2 linked regions of the Homo sapiens genome follow. The protein of the gene in region 2 purifies or fractionates together with the protein of the main gene of each other region. This does not show direct contact. Each region holds a gene or a part of one and is shown on either strand. Other genes may lie near its edges.

The links. Proteins that work in one complex are often made in the same cells at the same time.
Region 1: the proteins of PIPOX (region 2) and LALBA purify together in Homo sapiens (affinity purification with mass spectrometry; one large-scale study listed by BioGRID and IntAct). This does not show direct contact.

What each region holds. Positions count from the first base shown.
Region 1 is NC_000012.12:48,566,660-48,571,962, reverse strand, and holds LALBA (alpha-lactalbumin precursor), read left to right. Parts: upstream 1-1,916; 5' UTR 1,917-1,942; coding exon 1,943-2,075; intron 2,076-2,722; coding exon 2,723-2,881; intron 2,882-3,370; coding exon 3,371-3,446; intron 3,447-3,945; coding exon 3,946-4,006; 3' UTR 4,007-4,279; downstream 4,280-5,303. UniProt on the Homo sapiens protein: Regulatory subunit of lactose synthase, changes the substrate specificity of galactosyltransferase in the mammary gland making glucose a good acceptor substrate for this enzyme. This enables LS to synthesize lactose, the major carbohydrate component of milk.
Region 2 is NC_000017.11:29,052,779-29,056,211, forward strand, and holds part of PIPOX (peroxisomal sarcosine oxidase), read left to right. Parts: intron 1-141; coding exon 142-355; intron 356-634; coding exon 635-817; intron 818-1,766; coding exon 1,767-1,913; intron 1,914-2,284; coding exon 2,285-2,443; intron 2,444-3,034; coding exon 3,035-3,110; intron 3,111-3,396; coding exon 3,397-3,433. UniProt on the Homo sapiens protein: Metabolizes sarcosine and L-pipecolic acid.

The DNA.
Region 1 (5,303 bases), on a different chromosome or scaffold from region 2:
GAGAAATGGAGTGGCTCCACTTCTGTTGTGTTTCTGAACATGTATCTCTTGCTATCAGAACTTTCTGCTCATCCCTTCTGGCACACCAAGATCCTCCACATTCCCTTCACTCATGCCACTTCATATACTGGTTATCCATGGTACAGAAGACAGGATTTAACTGAGAGGACTTTTCCCTGACTCTGAATACATGTAGGAGATAACGATATGGAAGACCTTCAGTATGTAAGTCTTAAATAGATTGGTTGGGATAAATGTTCCCTGAAACATAAGAAACAGCGCAGCGGCTCCTGTCTGTAATCCTAGCACTTTGGGAGGCCGAGGCCCAGGCAGGCAAATTGCCTGAGCTCAGAAGTTTGAGACCAGCCTGGCCAACATGCAGAAACTCCGTCTCTACTAAAAATACATAAATTAACCGGGCATGGTAACACGTGCCTGTAGTCCCAGCTACTCGGGAGGCTGAGGCAGGAGAATCACTTGAGCCTGGGAGGCAGAGGTTGCAGTGAGCCAAGATCGCGCCACTGCATTCCAGCCTGGGCAACAGAGTGAGACTTGGTCAAAAAAAAAAAAAAAAAAGGAAGAAGAAGAAGAAATCAGGTTTAGAGATGAGGACAAAGAAGACGAATGGTGGCATGAAGGAGCTAAGAGCTACTTGTCACCATGACATGAAGCTTCATGCCAGCAAATTAAAGGAGCTATTCAGAACTAGTATCCTCAACTCTACTTGCTCAGGGGCACTGACCTTATAGAGATTCCAGACATAAGCTTGTTCAGCCTTAAAGTCCAATCTTTCCACTGGCTTGGGTCCTTCCCACTTTCTGTGGCCAACTCTGAGGTTGTCTACAAGTTATTGGTCTTAGATTTATGTAATGTCTCAATGCCAGTGTAGTATTTGGTTATTTACGGTAGGAGTGGTTAGGGGTGGGGAATCTGATAATAGCTCGTAGGATAGCTAGATTCTTTTTTTTTTTTTTTTTTTTTAAAGATAGGGTCTCACTTTGTCTCCCAGGATGGATGGAGTGCAGTGGAGTGAACATGGCTCACTGCAGCCTCGACCTCCTGTGCTCAAGTGTTCCTCCTGCCTCAGCCCCTCAAGTAGCTGGGACTACAGGCACATGTCACCATGCCCAGCTAATTTTTTTTGTAGAGATGGGATTTTACCATGTTGCCCAGGCTGGTCTCGAGCTCCTGGGCTCAAGTGATCCACCAGACTCGGCCTCCCAAAATGCCGGGATTACAGGTGTGAGCCACTGTGCCTGGCCTAGATGCTTTCATACAGGCTTTTCAATTATGCATTTTCCTTAAGTAGGAAGTCTTAAGATCCAAGTTATATCGGATTGTTGTAGTCTACGTTCCCATATTCTATTCCTATTTCTGAGCCTTCAGTCATGAGCTACCATATTAAAGAACTAATTCTGGGCCTTGTTACATGGCTGGATTGGTTGGACAAGTGCCAGCTCTGATCCTGGGACTGTGGCATGTGATGACATACACCCCCTCTCCACATTCTGCATGTCTCTAGGGGGGAAGGGGGAAGCTCGGTATAGAACTTTATTGTATTTTCTGATTGCCTCACTTCTTATATTGCCCCCATGCCCTTCTTTGTTCCTCAAGTAACCAGAGACAGTGCTTCCCAGAACCAACCCTACAAGAAACAAAGGGCTAAACAAAGCCAAATGGGAAGCAGGATCATGGTTTGAACTCTTTCTGGCCAGAGAACAATACCTGCTATGGACTAGATACTGGGAGAGGGAAAGGAAAAGTAGGGTGAATTATGGAAGGAAGCTGGCAGGCTCAGCGTTTCTGTCTTGGCATGACCAGTCTCTCTTCATTCTCTTCCTAGATGTAGGGCTTGGTACCAGAGCCCCTGAGGCTTTCTGCATGAATATAAATAAATGAAACTGAGTGATGCTTCCATTTCAGGTTCTTGGGGGTAGCCAAAATGAGGTTCTTTGTCCCTCTGTTCCTGGTGGGCATCCTGTTCCCTGCCATCCTGGCCAAGCAATTCACAAAATGTGAGCTGTCCCAGCTGCTGAAAGACATAGATGGTTATGGAGGCATCGCTTTGCCTGAATGTGAGTTCCCTGCCTCTGTGTTTCATCCATTCCTCATACGCTTCTCTCCTCCATCCCCTCTTTCTTCCACTTCGCCCCTCCACTTTTACTTAATTATCTAATCATCCTCTTTTCTGCTCATTTGCATACTCTTTTATTTCATGTATGTATATATGTATGTATTTATTTATTTTTGAGGTGGAGTTTCGCTCTTGTTGCCCAGACTGGAGTGCAATGGTGTAATCTCGGCTCACTGCAACCTCCGCCTCCTCGGTTCAAGTGATTCTCCTGCCTCAGCCTCCCAAGTAGCTGGAATTACAGGCACCCACCACCATGCCTGGCTAATTTTGTATTTTTTGTAGAGACAGGGTTTCACCATGTTGGCCAGGCTGGTCTCAAACTTCTGACCTCAGGTGATCCGCCCTCCTCAGCCTCCCAAAGTGTTGGGATTACAAGCGTGAGCCATCATGCCTGGCCCCATTTATTTTCCTATCCTTTCTTTCTCTTATTGTCTGATTTTTTTTTGGAATTCTCCATCTCATCAAGAAACTCTGAGCTTTGCCATCTTTGGAGATTGGCTGGAAAGCATTTTTGTCTGAGAATTACAGTTCCTCCTTTATGCAGATCCTGTACATCTCTGTGGTATCTCTTTCTCATCTTTCCCTCAGTGATCTGTACCATGTTTCACACCAGTGGTTATGACACACAAGCCATAGTTGAAAACAATGAAAGCACGGAATATGGACTCTTCCAGATCAGTAATAAGCTTTGGTGCAAGAGCAGCCAGGTCCCTCAGTCAAGGAACATCTGTGACATCTCCTGTGACAGTGAGTAGCCCCTATAACCCTCTTTCTCTGTTTTTCTGAGGCCTGCCCTTGGGATAATCTCCTTTTTAGTGCCAAGCAGACCTCAGGCTTCATTGCCTTGGCTGGGCTCTATAAAAATTGTGGGACTTGAATTGGCAGTACTGAGTAAGAAGCTGTTTGGATTTTTCATGGTCATCAAATCCCCAGACAGTTCCTTGAGGTTCAGTGGTAGACAATCGGAGCTGTCTGAGAGTCTTGGAATCTGATTGTCTGCATTTTCAGGGTAAGTCAGTTGATGAAGCTGATGATTCCTCCAGAGATATCCCAGGGAAATGAAGGAAGTCCCTACCCAGGGTTAGACATTACCACATTGGTCCTTTCATATAGAAAGACAACAGGCACAAGCCTTGAGTTTAGAGAACCCACTGGATCCAGGGGTTAGGGGAACTCAGTGCCTTTCTGGGTAATACTTGTCAGCTGTCTCAATCCTTTCCCTGTAACTCCTGCCAGAGTTCCTGGATGATGACATTACTGATGACATAATGTGTGCCAAGAAGATCCTGGATATTAAAGGAATTGACTACTGGTGAATCCTTATTCTATTTTCTATTTCCCCATCCTCCTTCTCCTTACCCCATTAGCCCAGCACCCCTTTCCTCTTACCCTATCTCTTGGTCATTTAATCTAGAATACAGTGTCTGAAACAAAGCTTACCTAGAGACTCAGGTTTCTGTTATTAAGCCTCTCTCGCTCCGCTCCTTGGTAGCAATTTTCCTAATAAGGGGTTGCCTAATGGAGGGCTCAGACCCAGGCCTCCTTTCACTTAGACTTGGACATCTAATTCCACTTGTTTAGTTCTATGCCCTAAAGCAAGCTGTTGGTAACATTGCATCTCTTTTTTAACCCTACAATTTTCTTGGATATTTTTTATGGACTGTATTCCACTTGATGGCTTGTGTCGCTTGACATCAGGCCAGGAATGTCTTTCTGTAATTCTCGTCCACGCTCTTCCACTTCAGCCCTCCTGGGAATGAATGTAAAGATTCAGTCAGCTAACTCACCTTGTCCCCCTTCTCCATTATCAGGTTGGCCCATAAAGCCCTCTGCACTGAGAAGCTGGAACAGTGGCTTTGTGAGAAGTTGTGAGTGTCTGCTGTCCTTGGCACCCCTGCCCACTCCACACTCCTGGAATACCTCTTCCCTAATGCCACCTCAGTTTGTTTCTTTCTGTTCCCCCAAAGCTTATCTGTCTCTGAGCCTTGGGCCCTGTAGTGACATCACCGAATTCTTGAAGACTATTTTCCAGGGATGCCTGAGTGGTGCACTGAGCTCTAGACCCTTACTCAGTGCCTTCGATGGCACTTTCACTACAGCACAGATTTCACCTCTGTCTTGAATAAAGGTCCCACTTTGAAGTCACTGGCTGTAATTTTTTTCCCCCTGGAGGGAAGGGGAAGAAATAGGATGAGTAGGTGGACACTGAAGCCATAGGTCATAGCCACCTTCCATCTCTACTGAAGAAGAAGTAGGCTGAATTTACAATAGAAAGGTGAAGGTTACTGTCTGTACCAACTCAATGCAACAAACTTTTATTGATCACCTAATCTATTCAAGGAACTGTAGACGGATCCAAAGTTGGCTAAACACTGGCCGGGTGCAGTGCTTCCACCTGTAATTCCAGCACTTTGGAAGGCTGAGGTGGGCAGATTGCTTGAGGTCAGGAGTTTGAGACCAGCTTGGCTAACAGCAAAACCCTGTCTCTACCAAAAGTACAAAAATTATCTGGGTGTGGTGGCAGGCGCCTGTAATCCCAGCTACTCGGGAGGCTGAGGCAGAAGAATTGTTTGAACCTGGGAGGCAGAGGTTGTAGTGAGCTGAGATCGCGTCATTGCGCTCTAGCCTGGGTGCTCCATCTCAAAAAACAAAAACAAAAACAAAAAACAAAAACACAAAGTTGGCTGAATAGCCTTTTCCCTCAAGGACTAATGGGAAAGACAAGATAAACATTAATAAATAGTTACAATATAAGGAAGAGAGTTATAAGCATCATGAGAGAGGTTAGAAATGTGCGCTGGGCATTCACAAAAGGAAAGATAACTTATCTTTGGAGGGGATGTTGGGAAAAAGGAATCAAGAAAGGGTTCCTGAAAGGGAGAGCATTTAGGCTGGTTTTAAAGTCTGTGTGGGATTTTGACAAGTGGAGATGTGGGGTGGGAAAAGGAAGAGCATGGACGGGAACCCAAGAATCTGAAATGGGTGACTTGTTGAAGGATTTCTTTATCCTTCATGAGGAGCTGTGAAGGGAACCCTTCCTGTCTCTGGAAACCAGAGAGAGAACAGGGACCTTGACAGTCAGCACAGTGGTGCTGAAGAATCTGAGAAAATGGGACCTTTTGGTTTGGACCCTCCACTCCATTATTTCTTCTTGTGCTGTGCTTGGTTT
Region 2 (3,433 bases):
GGCTGCTAGTGAACAAATTAGTGGCCTCAAGTCATCCTCCTGCCTCAGCCTCCTGAAGTGCTGGGATTACAGGCGTGAGTCGTCACATCAGGCCCAGGATTTTGAAACACACCTTCACCTAGGTGACTTATTTTTTAACAGGCAGACTGGATTACTGCTGCTGGGAATGAAAGAGAATCAAGAATTAAAGACAATCCAGGCCAATCTGTCGAGGCAGAGGGTAGAACACCAGTGTCTTTCATCTGAGGAACTGAAGCAACGTTTCCCAAATATTCGGTTGCCCAGGGGAGAAGTGGGGCTCTTGGACAATTCCGGAGGAGTTATCTATGCATATAAGGCCCTCAGAGCCCTGCAGGTAATGTCGTATAGCACTGGGGCGATGCAGGTGCTCCCTGCTCTGGGTGTCCTGGGTCCCAAGCAGCCAGCCCAAGACCCCCCTCTGGATGAGGCCTTTGCCCTGCAGGCTTTAGTCTTGACTTTTCCAGCAGGGCAGTGAAATATATGCGGCTGGCCTTGTCAATACAGGACAGGTCTAGATTCTGCACTCTTTTCTGCCCCAGGCAAAAGGCTTTCTGTCCACCAGGGTGAACCACATACAGAACTAATTCACCTTTCCCTGCTCCTGCCCTTTCAGGATGCAATTCGACAGCTAGGAGGCATAGTGCGTGACGGAGAGAAGGTGGTGGAGATAAACCCAGGGCTACTGGTCACGGTGAAAACCACCTCCAGGAGCTACCAAGCTAAGAGCTTGGTCATCACAGCAGGTCCTTGGACCAACCAGCTCCTCCGTCCCCTGGGCATTGAGATGCCTCTCCAGGTAAGAGGAGCTGGAAGCCCGAGAGTTGGTGCTCAAGAGAAGCCTTGGAACCAGATGGAGTCAAATTTGAGTCCTGGATCTGCCTCTTGCTAGTGGACAACCTTGGGCACATTCATTCACCTCACCGAGCCTCAGTTTTATCATCTGTAATATGGGGGATGATAGCTACCTCATAGGGCTGTTGGAGAATTAAATTATTAGGCTGGTGCAAAAGTAATTGCAGTTTTACCGTTCAAAGTCATGGCAAAAACCACAATTACTTTTGCACTAACCTAATATATGCTGTATATAAAGCCTTTAAGAGGCCGGATGTGGTGGCTGACACCTGTAATTCCAGCACTCTGGAAGACCAAAGCAGGAGAATTTCTTGAGCCCAGGAGTTCAAGACCAGCCTGGGCAATATGGCGAGACCCTGTTTCTACAAAAACTAAGAAAAATTAGCCAGGTGTAGTGGCGTGTGCTTGTAGTCCCAGCTACTTGGGAGGCTGAGCCCAGGAGGCTGGCCTGAGCCCAGGAGGTTGAGGCTGCAATGAGTCGTGATTCTACCACTGCATTCCAGTCTGGGTGACAGAGCAAGACCCTGTCTCAATAAAATAAAATAAAATAAAATAAAAATAAAGCCCTTAGGACATAACCTGGCTTATAGTAAGCACTCAATAAACCTGAGGTCTTATTAATTCCCGAAAAGAGACAGAAATATGGCTGGGGGCTGGGTGTAGTTATGGGAGAAAACTAAGAATGGGAGAAGAGACAGAGGCTCAGAGATGTTTGTGCATCATAACACATGTAACAGGTAAACAACATGAGAAGTGGGAGAGACAAACATGGATGAGTTCAACTGGGTGTCCAGGCTTGTGTTAGAGGGCCGCAGGGGCCCAGAGAAACTGCTTTCATTGCTGTAGAGTTCCATGGCTTTTCTTCATTTCCCACTTCCTCTCCCTGCCTCAAGACCCTGCGGATCAACGTGTGTTACTGGCGAGAGATGGTTCCTGGGAGCTATGGTGTGTCCCAGGCCTTTCCGTGCTTCCTGTGGCTGGGCTTGTGTCCCCACCACATCTACGGACTGCCCACAGGAGAGTACCCAGGGCTGATGAAGGTGAGCGGAAAGACCGAGATAAGGCAGGTAGATGCCAGTGCAGATTAGGGGAAGCTGCTCTAACTTTCCCCTCCATAGATGCCCTTGGGTCTCGGGGCCAGCAGCAGGAGCCTGCTTCACTCATGGCGATTTGCAAGGAAAGACCCTCAGCTGCCCTGAGGCCCAGCAAAAGGAGCCCTTCCTTTGCAAACATAGGGTGGTTGCAGGGACCAACAGCTAAGCAGCCTCAGGTGACAGCCCACAGCACCTGCCAGGAGTGGGGAAGGCTGGAATGATGGATGGGGCTGTCCTGTGTACACGCCTGCCCTTCGGCTGTGGGTGTGTGTGGAAGGCCAGCCCTCACCACTCATGCCACTCTGATTGGGAGCCAGGTCAGCTATCACCACGGCAACCACGCAGACCCTGAGGAGCGGGACTGCCCCACAGCACGCACAGACATCGGAGACGTCCAGATCCTGAGCAGCTTTGTCAGAGATCACTTACCTGATCTGAAGCCCGAGCCTGCTGTCATTGAGAGCTGCATGTACACGGTAAGGGGTCTGGGCAGCCTTGCTGGGCCCCCTCACCACTCTACAGAAGGGAAGAAGGAGACAGACCTTGCACTGGCCAGGCCCGATTGTTTGACCCCTGACATAGTGTGTGACTTTAAACAAACGGGCTCATTTCTGTGGGTAGGTTCACCTCTACCAGGGAGGGTCCTGTTCGAAATTATTCCTATTCTTCTTCATTAGGAAACTAGGTTATGCCTGGCAGTCGGTCCTTCACTCTGATTCCCAGAAGAGCTCTAAAAGATTTTCTGGCAAGCTCCTCCAGTTGAGCAGGCCTTAGGGACAAAGAGAAGAGACAGATGTCACCACGGCCTAAGGCATCTTGGCTAAAGTTAGTTTACAAAGATTAACTGAACACCTACTGTGTTCGTAGCTCTGTGCGAGAAGAAAGGCAGCCGGACAAATGAAAAAGACTGGCACACCCAGAGGGGCACGGGCATGCGGAAAGCATCCTTGTGCCTCATTCCATCCTTTCTGGAAAGAAATCCAGCCCATCCCCTTCCAGTTAGAGCCTGCAGTTCTTTCTCTTCCCTCGAGCCTCAAAGAACACAAGGTGTGACTGTTTCTTTCTAGAATACCCCTGATGAGCAGTTCATTCTCGATCGCCACCCAAAGTATGACAACATTGTCATTGGTGCTGGATTCTCTGGTGAGTCTGAGCTGGGGGGAATGGGGTGCCTTAAAGCTGACCTACCTCAGTGCCAGGTGAAATGGTATTTTCCACACTCTTAGCTGCCCAGATAGGTGTGAAGCCTGGACATTGTAGGTATAAGGAGGCTGGGCAGTCAGAAAAGGGGTATTCATGGTGGGAGGCCACTTCTGGCTTTGGGATGTGACCAGGAGGACAGTCAGCCCTGTCTGGGTAAGTAGGGGATGTCCAGAGAGCTCAACCTCTGTCTGTGAAGCTGCCTGAGAGTCTGCTCTTCCCTTCCTAGGGCACGGGTTCAAGCTGGCCCCTGTGGTGGGGAAGAT